3 linked regions of the Homo sapiens genome follow. The protein of the gene in region 3 purifies or fractionates together with the protein of the main gene of each other region. This does not show direct contact. Each region holds a gene or a part of one and is shown on either strand. Other genes may lie near its edges.

Region 1 (3,500 bases), on a different chromosome or scaffold from region 3:
GATGACATCCCCTGGGTAAAAGGTAACAAACCTGGATCAAAGCAGAAGGACCCGGTGAGACCAGGGGCTGGCTGAGGTGGCCACAGCCAAAGATGGAGGGCTCAGGTCAGCCTCCACATGTGTGGCAGGTGAAGCGGGGCTGGCAGGACAGCCCCTGTCACTCACTGGGAGACCCAGGCTATCAGGTCCTCTGTCTTGAATACCATCTGGTTGGTGTTGCCGCTCTGGACCACTTCCCCATTCACTCGGCAGCAGATCTTTAAGTTGTGTGGATCTGAAATGCAAAGATGGTACCTTGGAGTTATCCCTTTTCCCCCTCAAACCCCCCAATATTTTACAAACACAACTGTAGGGGTGCTTCGTGACTTGGCAGGTGAAAGGGCTTCAAAGTGCCCACATTGACTCAGTGCTCTATGTTAGAACTTTCTGTATAGACATTGGCCTTCTCAGGCCTCCCCGCATCCCCACCAAGAGCACCAAGCAGTAGTAACAGGGATGGGTTGAGAGGATGTTTCAGACTCTGAAGGGGAAGAGAAAAATGGCTAGGGTTTTTGCCTTGAAAAAAATAAGGGCATCTGTCTACAGCATAGGATGACACCTGTAGATTGACTCAGCAGGGCCAAGCGTGGTGGCTCATGTCTGTAATCATAGCACTTTGGGAGGCCAAGGCAGGCGAGAACTGATTAAGCTCAGGAGTTCAAAATCAGCCTGGGTAACTTAGTGAGTGCTTGTCTCTACAAAAAATAATAAAAACATTAGTCAGGCGTGGTGGTGCGTGCCTGTAGTCCCAGCTACTCAGGAGGCTGAGGCGGGAGAACTGCTTGAACTCAGGAGGTTGAGGCTTCAGTGAGCTGGGATTGGGCCACTGCACTCCAGCCTGGGTGACACAGTAAGACCATGGCAAAAAAAAGACTCAGCATCTATAAAGCAGTGAGGCAATGGTTCTAGCCGGGACAGAGAAGCCTCGTGTACTGGATGCTGGCAGGGGATGGATTACTGTAAGAACATCCTGGCTAACCAGCACTTTTTACTGTTGGTGGTGGTCCTAGTGTTCTACCCCCCTTAAGTAGAGCAGCTGAAACACAATTTAACTTTGCTGAGGACTCTGCATGGGGTGCTGAGGCACTGGGGTCTTTGGTATCCTGGCATGGCTGGCCCATGTGGACACCCCCCACCTCCACCACAGTTGTGGGTGGCTGTGTAAGAGGCTGCGCTCTGCCCTCTGGGGCACTGCCCCCATCCTGGCGCTGTATCCTGACTGTGTGTGGTCAGTGCTGTTCTATTTCCACAGTGGCTGGGTGAGTCACACTGGCTTTCATCTCCTGTAGTGTGGAAAATGCCTTGGCCTTGGGATAACTATGCTCCATGATGCTCAACTTAGATTGTTTCAGAGGTGGCAGCCGCAGGAAGCCCGATCCACCCATCAGCTCAGTGTTCTTTGTAATTTACTTCACGCATGCAGTTTCACATCCTCTGCAGTTGTGTTCCCTCTAGGGGGCTTGGGAAGGAAGCCCATGGGAGAACTCGTGGCTGAGGATAAGAGACTTGCCCTGTATGGAGTCAGCAGTGAAAGGGCGGCCAGGGAGGGCAGGTGCCACATGTACCTGAACCCATGCTCCTCCCTGAAGCGCTGTTCATCTGTGCAATGGTAGGTATAAGGGGGCAGGGACCAGGGACCTACCTGCTACACTGTCCTTGGTCACCAAGGCAGGGCCCAGAGGGCAGAAGGTGTCGAAGGTTTTTCCCAGCAGCCATTGTTTCCCATTACGTCTCATTTGCCAGTCACGAGCACTCACGTCATGAGCCACAGTGAAGCCGGCCACGTGGGCCATAGCATCTGTGGCCTATGGGGGCAGGGGATTTGGCCATACAGGAGGTTAGATCATGGGTGACACCAACACCTATGGCAAGGGATCTCTAAGCTGTTATCCCATGTTAGTAGCCAGAGCCAGCCAAAGGTGGGTGAAGGGAAAGGCAGTGTCAGGGAGCAAGGAGGCTGACTGCTTCCTAGTGTCAGGGACAGCTGGCACCGTGTGTTGGTGAGTGGGGTCAGAACTAGGAGAGGCAGGAGCTGGGGCCTCTGCTGCACTCTGGACTGGGAGCCCACCCTTTCCACCTCACCTTGATGTGCTTGCCTTTCTTTCCAATGACCACGGCCAGCTCCACTTCCCAATCTACCTCCTGTAGGGTGGGAGAGGAACAGTGAGCTGCAGTGGCTTCAGGGCCCACTGTCCATGCTGAGAGGCTGCACACCATGCTGAAGGGCCTCAACCTTTGTCAGTATGGCTTCGCTGCCATCCCATGTTTGCCATCACCACGAACCAGAGCCCAGTGAATGACAAGGGAGGTGTGACTTGTAGACCCATACATTTTGGGCAGTGGCAGACAGCATCATGGGATGCAGGCACAGGTCCCCACACCACTGACTGCAGAAGAGCAACACGTGTCCAGGGCACTGAGTTTAAAAGTCACTCTGGATACTTTTAACAAAGGATAAATACGAAGTAATATCCCCTAGCAATATGTAACCCTACTGTGTGTCAGGCACTGTTCTAAGTGTTTTAATCTATTAACTCCCACAAAGGACTTGAGTAAGCAATTCACAAAAAGGTAACGGACATGGCCACAAAACATGAAGAAATGCTCAGCCTCTCCCATAATCCATAAAATACACTATAAAATAGATATAATTTGGCCTTTAAAATTGGTGGCTCTTTCTAATAATAACCAGAGTTGGTGTAAGTACACCCGACATCCAGATGTTGGTCTCTAATACCACTCCCCACTAAGGAGCACTGGGTTCCTTGGGGAAACGGCCAATTCCAGTTCCAAGACAGACAGTACATGATAAGCCTAGAACATCTTGGCCAGAAAGCTAGGATATACTAAAAGTGACGGGAATGGAGCCAACTTGAAGGCCCCTCACTGGCCAAACTGAGGTCACCTAAAGAATGTAAATGATGAATTACAAACAATTGAGTAAAAACAGAATTCACAGTGATATTGAAGACAGGAATAAAAAGGAGGGAGGCAGCTTTTCTTCATAGAAGAATGCCAGCCAATAAAAACAGAAGGCATGATTGAGAAGTCATTGATCTTGTCTGGGAGTGGTGGGTCACGTCTGTAATCCCAGCACTGTGGGAGGCCAAGTCAGGTGGATCACCTCAGGTGAGGAGTTCAAGACCAGCCTAGCCAACATGATGAAACCCCGTCTCTACTAAACATACAAAAATTAGCCAGGTGTGGTGGTACACGCCTATAATCCCAGCTACTCAGGAGGCTGAGGCAGGAGAATCACTTGAACCCAGGAGGCAGAGGTGTGCTGAAATTATGCCACTGCACTCCATCTGCACAATAGAGTGAGACTCTGTCTCAAAAAAAAAAAAGGTCATTGTTCTCTAACCCCCAGTGCAATAATAGATTCAGTCAGGATGACCACAGGATCCCTGGATGAGATGCTATGGGGCAATAAGATAGTTATGTGATCTCAAACTACCACC
Region 2 (4,266 bases), on a different chromosome or scaffold from region 3:
GGCATACTCCAAAAGCAACATAAACACATTTTTCACCAAATGGATTTTTAAAAAGAATACTATGCTAGTGGTAACATTTTAAACACTGTAGTTATTAAGTATGTCAATTACACTGAAAGTTGATGATAAAAATCACACTTACTTGTGTTTTCCAGAGGAAGACTCATCTCATTGTCTAGGAACAACTCTTCCTGACCATTCTGTGTAGGCTGCTTTTGATCTTTCCTTCCAGTTTCCTTGTGGAAAGTTCTTAGTGTTTCCCTAAGATTTTCAAAGTTTAGGTTTTTGTAGTTTGATACCTCCTTTACCCATGTTAAAAATTTATTAACATCATCACTGGAGACCTCACACTCTTTAAGAAAGAGAGCACAGATATGTTTTTGATTTGGTGGTGACATATCAGACTGCAAAAAGTAAGACGGAAATCCTTGAACTTGATATTGATAGCTCCTTGATCCCACCACAGGCTTTACTTGTACCTTCACTCTCCACCAAGCACCTGTTATCGGAAAACGTCCAAACACTTTACATGTCTCTTGTGTGTTTTCATCACAAATAGAAACTAAAAAAAAACAAACAAAAACCCACAAAAGTTAACTCTGGAGATTATTTAGAAACCGTTTCCTCAAAGTTTCATCAAACTTACCACTATCTTTAATCTCCCTACAGCACTCTCTAAAGATGTCTGGTAGGGTGCCTGTAACACTGCATTCTGCCTACCTCTTTTTCTGTCTCCCTCCACTACACTGTAAATACTAAAACAGGACACTGTTTCGTTTGTCTTTGTATTCCAAAACGCAAGCACAGTACACAGCAGGTGTCTGCTGTTCCTCTTCTAAAATCAGTCCCCTCTCTGCTACTCTTGACTTCAGCCAATACTGGCCTTCATGCAGTTTCTTTAAAATGCCATGGCCCTTCACTCAAGTTATTCCATCTGCCTTAACTGATCTCCCCTTTACTGTTTACTACATTTACTACAGACCTCAGCTTAACTATCACTTACTTAGAAAAGTCTTCCCTGAATCTCATGTATAAAACCTCTCAAAGCACTATTTAGCATTCCTTCTAAGCATTTAGTAACATTATAGTTACTTCTGTGATTAAAGAATGTTTGTTTAATACACTAGAGGGTAAGCTTCATTAAGACTGCAACCTTGTTATTTTATTTCTCTAGGTTTTCCCAGCACCAAACATGCTAGCCAGTTGATGATACTTTAGAATGACGACTAAGCCCTCCACAAATACTTGAAACTTTTCTGCCTAAATCTGCGCTGTCCACCCACGTGGCTATTTAAATTAAAATGTAATAAAACTTAAAATTTCTCTCCTCAGTTACACTAGCTGGATTTCAAGTTCTAAACAGCTACATATGGCTAGTGGCTATTATACCAGACAGTGCAGATATAAAACACTGCCATGATCATGGAAAGTTCTACTGAACAGCACCGGTCGGCACATTAAAATATTTTAAGTCTCAGTCACAAAGTATACATAACAGGTATAACTTATAGCACAGGAAACTACCTCATAGCACAGGAAACTACTTATACAAGGTTTACCCGAACCACAAGGTTACTAACACCAATTAACAATCATCTGTGCACTGAGGTGTTCCTTGTGTTTCGTTTTTCTTTTTCTTTTCTTTCCTTTTCGTTTTTTGAGATGGAGTTTCATTCTTGTTGCCCAGGCCGGAGTGCAATGGTGTGATCTCAGCTCACTGCAACCCCCACCTCCTGGGTTCAAGCAATTCTCCTGCCTCGGCCTCCCAAGTAGCTAGGATTACAGGTGTGCGACATCACGCCCGGCTAATTTTGTAGTTTTGTTGTTGTTGTTGTTGTTTTACTAGAGACAGGTTTCACCATGTTGGTCAGGCTGGTCTCGAACTCCTGACCTCAAGTGATCCACCTGCCTCGGCCTCCCAAAGTGCGTGAGCCACCGCGCCCGGACTGTTTTGTTTTTCCAAGAAGCTGAGGAAGAACCACGTATTTGACTCCAGGCAATATAGGATAATAATTACAAGTTCTCATTCTATAGAACTTGAGGATAAGTGGTCAGAAGGAAAAATAAAAGTTCCGATTCTGGGTGGAAATAGAGACTCAACATCCACTGTTTCCTTAAGCGTAAAACTACCTTACATTAAAGGTACATTAAATTAAAGGACGACCATTAAAATGAGAATAATTTTAAAAAAAAAAAAAAAAAAAAAGGGCAACCCGCTCGGGTCCCCTTCCACACTGTAGAAGCTTTGTTCTTTCGCTCTTTGCAATAAATCTTGCTGCTGCTCAAAAAAAGAAAAAAAAAAAAAAACCACATAGTATGTGTCCAGTTAAAGTCACTGCTATTATTATAGTCATAATTTTACCCTTGGTAGGATGAAGCAGCTAGACCACTGATAAGCTAAATCTGTTAGCACGACTGGGTGCCTTGCTCAGGGCAAAGCCAGAATGGGAAGCGCTACTTTGGACCCTCCAACCCCATCCCCCGGGCAGACGCCTTCCTCACCGCGGAGGCACCCGGGGAGGCTGCCAGCCTTTACGCCCCCACTGCAGAGCTCCTCGGCGTCGATGAACACGGACTCTTCATCCTCCTCCACGTCGTCGTTTAGGTAGTCGTCGTCCTCCTCCACCAGATCCCTGGGTGGGAGCAGAGGTCCCTGAAGTTGGCGCAGGTACGGACTCGACCTGGCCATGCTTCTCCTGAACTCAACCCAAACAACTCGGGAAAACCCTGGCTAACTGCATGGTCATGATCAGCCAATCAGTTCTACGACTGTAAGGCCATCAACTTCCGGGAACGGCCTGGCGGCCGCCAGCGTACATAAAACCTGAAAGGCAGCGAAGCTCCGCCCCAAGTTTCCAGGAATTGCCGAGGGGAGGGCATGTGGAAGGGGCGGGGCAAGGCGGGTTAGGGGCGGGGAAGGGAGAGCGAGGGGCTGGGAGATGGGCGGGGCTTCCGCTCCTTTTGGAGCCTGGTGCTGGGCGGTGATTATCAGGAAGGTGCTGGGACGAAATCAGCGCTGGGGAGTGACAGGCGTGGCACCTGCAGAACCGCCAGTGCACGGCATCTCCTGCGGAGAGAGAACGGGGAGAAAGTCCACTTCTGCTGAGCTTGAAGAACCTGGAAAAGCAACCCCCACCCCAACCTTCCCAAAACGAAAGTATAGCAGATGCCCTTCTGGAATCGGATCTAGGGCAGGGACCTAGAATTCTGTCTTTTTAATGTACATTCCGGGCTGTCCATTTTGATGCTCAGCTAGGTTTGGACACCACTGGATTAGATAACATTCAAAGTTATTTTTATCCTTTCCTCTGTGAGTACACCCTGGTCTCCCAAACTTATTTAAGCTGGGCTGCTACCTGCTGACAGTGGGGCAAAAGTGTCTCTTTGCAGCCCAGAGTATAGACAGGAATAGGAGAAGGGAAATAGAAGAGAAAGGAACGTGGTTTTAAAAACTATTATGGGGCTATGATTCTCTTACTTGATGAGGATGGTACTTGAAAGTCTTGGTACTATTTAAGAAATACCATAAATATATTACTACATTACTGTATTGATACTGTTTATTTTGGGATTATTCCTGAAATAACTAAACACACACTATTTACTAAATCCAAAAGCACCTGATGCTATATTTAAATATATATAAACGACAACTAGCACCAAATATTTAAGAAAAATGTATAGGAGAAAATATAAAAATTGATTTCTTTTCCTTTGGGTACCAATTGAAAAATGCCCACTTTTGTTGCTTTTAAAAGAAATACTGTTGCAGCTGACAAAACACCAGTGTTTCCAAGGATTGGCTATATGAGGTTGAATTCCTTTGACATTCACATGGCTACTGTTTCCACCACAACATTGAATCTCCTCTGACAAATGTCACACTTACTGTCCTCTTCGTTTCAAAAACCAGTGGATACTTTTCAGCCTTTGTTTTACCTGACCTCTCAGCAGTATTTGATACTGATAAGTATTTTCTTCTTGTAGCATTCTGCTGCCGGGGCTTTTGCAGCTTGCCTTCTCAGATTTTTCTCCTTTCTGGCTATTTACAGTCTTGGACCCCTCTGCTTGCCTGTAAGTACTGTTATTCCCCAAGGCTCCATCCCAAGCATCTTCTTGCTCTATAATCCTTTCCTCAATCATCCTTCACCTACATGCTAATGACTCAGCCTAATCTGATCTCCAAACCATACAAACAACTGCCTAAACACTGTCAGTCACTACTGGATGCCCCTTGGCTACTTAAGACTCAGCATATCTAAACTG
Region 3 (5,156 bases):
AATTGTGACAGGTGCATAATTCAGGATTACATACTGTGTCGGAATTGATGGGTTCTTGGTCTCACTGACTTCAAGAAAGAAGCCACGGACCCTCGTGGTGAGTGTTATAGTTCTTAAAGGCGGCATGTCCGGCGTTTGTTCCTTCTGATGTTCGGATGTGTTCAGAGTTTCTTCCTTCTGGTGGGTTCATGGTCTTGCTGGCTCAAGAGTGAAATTGCGGACCTTCGTGGTGAGTGTTATAGCTCTTAAGGCAGCACGTCTGGAGTTGTTCGTTCCTCCCGGTGGGTTTGTGGTCTCGTTGGCTTCAGGAGTGAAGCTGCAGACCTTCGCGGTGAGTGTTACAGCTCATAAAGGCAGTGTGGACCCAAAGAGTGAGCAGCAGCAAGATTTATTGCAAAGAGCGAAAGAACAAAGCTTCCACAGTGTGGAAGGGGACCCGAGCGGGTTGCCACTGCTGGCTTGGGCAGCCTGCTTTTATTCTCTTATCTGGCCCCACCCACATCCTGCTGATTGGTAGAGCCAAGTGGTCTGTTTTGACAGGGCCCTGATTGGTGCATTTACAATCCCTGAGCTAGACACAAAGGTTCTCCACGTCCACACCAGATTAGCTAGATACAGAGTGTCAACACAAAGGTTCTCCCAGTCCCCACCAGAGTAGCTAGATACAGAGTGTCGATTGGTGCATTCACAACCCCTGAGCTAGACATAGGGTGCTGATTGGTGTGTTTATAAACCTTGAGCTAGATACAGAGTGCCGATTGGTGTATTTACAGTCCTTTAGCTAGACATAAAGGTTCTCCAAGTTCCCACTAGACTCAGGAGCCCAGCTGGCTTCACCCAGTGGATCTCGCACTGGGGCTGCAGGTGGAACTGCCTGCCAGTCCCACGCTGTGTGCCCACACTCCTCAGCCCTTGGGTGCTCGATGGGACTGGGCGCCGTGGAGCAGGGGGCAGCACTCATCAGGGAGGCTCGGGCCGTGCAGGAGCCCACGGAGGGCGTGGGAGGCTCAGGCATGGCAGGCTGCAGGTCCCGAGCCCTGCCCCGCCAGAAGGCAGGTAAGGCCCAGTGAGAAATCGAGCGCAGCGCCAGTGGGCCGGCACTGCTGGGGGACCCAGTACACCCTCTGCAGCCACTGGCCCGGGTGCTAAGCCCCTCATTGCGTGGGGCCGGCAGGGCCGGCTGGCTGCTCCGAGTGCAGGGCCCGCCAAGCCCACACCCACCTGGAACTCCAGCTGGTCCACAAGCACCCCGCGCAGCCCTGGTTCCTGCTCGCGCCTCTCCCTCCACACCTTCCTGCAAGCTGAGGGAGCCGGCTCTGGCCTTGGCCAGCCCAGAAAGGCGCTCCCACAGTGCAGCAGTGGGCTGAAGGGCTCCTGAAGTGCCGCCAAAGTGGGAGCCCAGGCAGAGGAGGCGCCGAGAGGGAGCGAGGGCTGTGAGGACTTCCAGCACACTGTCACCTCTCACTATGACCCTTGCTTATGCAGCCCAGGTGGCTGTTATCTAGGCTTGCTCAAAAGAGCCTTGCAAGTGCTTATCTCATAATCTTCACTATGGTGCCCAGACGGCCGCAGCCTAGGCCTACTCAGGCATGTCTTATAACCTTCACTGTGCTGTTTAGATAAAACAGAATACTTGAAGTTACTAGTTACAGAAAACAGGAATCTATAAACTCATAAAACTTGCAGAGCAAGGTACAATCACACGGAAGGGGATGGGATTCAAGGGGGAACTTTACTTTTTCTTATCCTTTTGTTGAGGGAGTGCTGGAAGAGTCTCCAGAGCACATCCTTTGAGCCCTGGTTTCTTTGAGAATGTTATCAAGACTACACCCGGGTCAGGGCTTTGCCTGTTACTGCCTTTGGGATGAGTCAGCCTCATATAGAAAGCTTGTTTTTCACTTTTTAAATTTTATTTTGCTTTCTTCAATTTCCTGCCTCACTTCCTCAGGCCCCATATTTGAGCGCCAAACACAGTTAGGGTGAGAGTGAGACTCTGTCTCAAAAAAAAAAAGGACTTTCTTCTCAATTCATCTAAGTTCTTGTCACACAATCAGGAAAGATCAGTCTTGTGGACACAGAAGGGTGAGAATAATGGAATTTATTGGGCAAAAAAGGAAAAAGAGAAAAACCTCAGCAGAGGAAGAGGGAGCTGCTCCTACCCTGCCACACAGGAACTCAAGAGGCCAGGCTCCTTGCGTCTGCCAATGGCATGAACTTCTGTGGCTCCACCCTGTTCTCCCAGTCAAAGGCTGGTGGGAGGTTCTCTGGGGAGCTCTTTTTACTTCGCTGTCTTACCACTTTATAAATGTGTAACCAAAGCTCAAGCAAGACCTTTCCTCTGTTCAGGACAACAAAATATAATCGTTGTCCCTAACATTTCTACTTCATTTATAATCTATGCTTTGTCTTTACTTCAGGTATCTCTTAGTTTTCACCTCCTTGAACTGAAACCTTTATTATTTCTATTTCTACATTATTATAGTGTCCATCTGGAGTAACAAATTCAACCCCTGCCAAACTAAAATTAATAGTTACACTCCTGTTTTCTCTCTCCTGATCCACATGTGCACACTAAGAAAAACCTTTCTTTTCATTCTATTCACCCTAGTTTTCAAAGCCACAGCTCTAGATAATCATTCAAGACTCTTCTGCTTTCTCTTTCCCAGTCAGTAACTCCCCACATCCCTCAGTCCCAATGTCCTAAATATCTTAAAACTTTACTTTTCATTACTCAGTACCTAGTTCAGATTCTGACCATATCTGACCTGGGCCTTTGCAACAGTCTTTTAACTGGTTTCCCTACCATTGCATTTCACCATTTTAATTCATTCGTTACACCAGATGGAGCTTTCTAAAACCTATGTTCATATTACTCCCTTGCTTAAAACTCCTTAAGTCTCCTCATAAAGGAAAAACGTGCTGTATCATTCAAGTGCTTTCATGATTCTTTAAAGACGCCACTTCTTTAGTTAACTTAATCCTATGTAATAACATTGGTGAAATCACGTGTGAGTTTTCTACTTATGTCCTTTTATAATATATGAATATATTTTGTTATATTTTAAAATACATATATTTTTGTCCTTGTGCCACCTAAAATCATTTTTCATGCTGGTCTTTGGAAATACTGACCTAGAAGTTGAAATCTAAGCCCTATGGTGTGATCCCTCTAGTTCTTCACATCTTGCTGCTCTTCTCTTTCCACCTTACATATATGAAGGCTGAAACCCTAGCAGTTCCCCAATGTGATACGTTTATTTCAATCTCCTATGCCTTCGCTTGGAGCAGGCCCCCTCCCCATTCTCTCCTTAATGAACTTTTTATCCGTAGGAAATCACTCCATCATTTCAAAGTTTTCCCTGAAAGTCATCCGTTCTATGCCTGTATCTATTTCTCTTGTAGTATTTTTCACATCCAAGGCTGCTAACACTTGAAGGCAGGGTCTAAGTCTTCTCTCTGTTTTACCTGTCCCTCACATAGAACCAGGGCATGTAGTAGGACTCAAAAAAAGTTTCTTGGATTTAACGGAATCCCAGACTTTAAAAGTTAAAATCAGGAGAACCCACAGTTAAGGGAGTCATTCTAATTCCTAAAAGTATTTAATTAGCTCTGTATCCATAAAAGGACAGTGGAACTGATGGATCCTAGTGTTACTTGTTTAAGATGAGACCAGTGGCTAATGAGATGAGTTCAAATTCATAACTCCAAAGCTTATACATACTATTCTGCCTCTCAGTTGACATGTTTTGGTCAATACATAGTAATCTGTGATGAATTGTCTTGTTGGGTTACTTCTAGATTCATGTCCTTTAAAAGTTACATAATCAGGACTGGATTCTAAGGAAATAATCCAAAATAGAGGAAAAGCTATATTCATAATGTTCCAGTGGACATTTTCATTTAGAGCAGCAAAAGATTGGAAATAATTTAAATATCTACCTTAATGGCTAATTATATAGTATATCAGTTTAATGGACTATTTTTCTGCTATTGAAAATGGTGGTAACTGATATTACGGAGAAAGTGAACACTAAATAATTTCAAGTGGTAAATGTAGAAAGCAAAATTGTGGGATTTTTAAAATTTTGTTTGTTTTTGTTTTTACTGAGATTACAAGTATATTAGGAAAAATTATATTTAAAAAATTTGGAGGAAAGAAAATTTGCCATTAATTATATTAAGAGGGAGAGATGGGTGGGTTTAAAACTTTTTCTTTTCTTTCTTTCCCAAATTTTCTGAGCTGGGTTCTGGAAGGATGAACCAATTAAAAAATATATATATATGGAAAAAGATTACAAATCCTGGGCTAAGGGCAAAGTGGTTTCAACCCTGATCATGTATCCCCAACCCTCTGATACTCCAAAGTCAGGACTTCCTTTTTTTCAGCCAGGACGTTTTTATTCTGTAGAGTTTTTTGTTTGTTTGTTTTTGAGACAGAATCTCACTCTGTTGCCCGGACTGGAGTGCAGTGGTGCAGTCTTGGCTCACTGCAACCTCCACCTCCCTGGTTCAAGCAACTCTTGTTCCTCAGCCTCCCAAGTAGCTGAGACCACAGGCACACACCATCTCGCATGGCTAATTTTTGTATTTTTTGTAGAGATAGGGTTTCACCATGTTGGCCAGGCTGGTCTCAAACTCCTGACCTCAAGTGATCCACCCGCCTTGGCACCCCCAAAGTTCTGGGACTGCAGGTGTGCCACCACGCCTCAGCTTCCATAGAGTTTAGTTTTGATCTGTTTTGTTTAATTTTTATTTTTTAATTTTATTTTTCCATAAGTTATTCAGGTACAGGTGGTATTTGGTTACATGAGTAAGTTCTTTACACTAGTGATTTGTGAGATATTGGTGCACCCATCACCTGAGCATTATACACTGCACCATATTTATAGTCTTTTATCCCTTATCCCCCTCCCATTCTTCCCCCCAAGTCCCCAAAGTCCATTGTATCATTCTTATGCCTTTGCGTCCTCATAGCTTAGCTCTCCCATATAATTGAGAACATACAATGTTTGGTTTTCCATTCCTGAGTTACTTCACTTAGAATAATAGTCTCCAGTCTCATCCAGGTCACTGGGAATTTGGGTTGGTTCCACGATTTTGTGTTGGGCATTTGGGTTGGTTCCATGATTTGCAATTGGGGATGATGCTGCTATAAA

The links. The genes of interacting proteins can lie anywhere in the genome.
Region 1: the proteins of THEM4 (region 3) and FAHD2A fractionate together in Homo sapiens (co-fractionation; one large-scale study listed by BioGRID). This does not show direct contact.
Region 2: the proteins of THEM4 (region 3) and HELB fractionate together in Homo sapiens (co-fractionation; one large-scale study listed by BioGRID). This does not show direct contact.

Annotation. Positions count from the first base shown.
Region 1 is NC_000002.12:95,409,208-95,412,707, reverse strand, and holds part of FAHD2A (oxaloacetate tautomerase FAHD2A, mitochondrial), read right to left. Parts: intron 2,182-3,500; coding exon 2,122-2,181; intron 1,845-2,121; coding exon 1,682-1,844; intron 275-1,681; coding exon 166-274; exon of another isoform or gene 32-165; coding exon 1-31. UniProt on the Homo sapiens protein: Tautomerase that converts enol-oxaloacetate, a strong inhibitor of succinate dehydrogenase, to the physiological keto form of oxaloacetate. It is thereby required to maximize aerobic respiration efficiency by preventing succinate dehydrogenase inhibition.
Region 2 is NC_000012.12:66,301,027-66,305,292, reverse strand, and holds the start of HELB (DNA helicase B), read right to left. Parts: upstream 2,801-4,266; 5' UTR 2,690-2,800; coding exon 2,503-2,689; intron 563-2,502; coding exon 143-562; intron 1-142.
Region 3 is NC_000001.11:151,902,262-151,907,417, reverse strand, and holds part of THEM4 (acyl-coenzyme A thioesterase THEM4), read left to right. Parts: intron 1-5,156. UniProt on the Homo sapiens protein: Has acyl-CoA thioesterase activity towards medium and long-chain (C14 to C18) fatty acyl-CoA substrates, and probably plays a role in mitochondrial fatty acid metabolism. Plays a role in the apoptotic process, possibly via its regulation of AKT1 activity.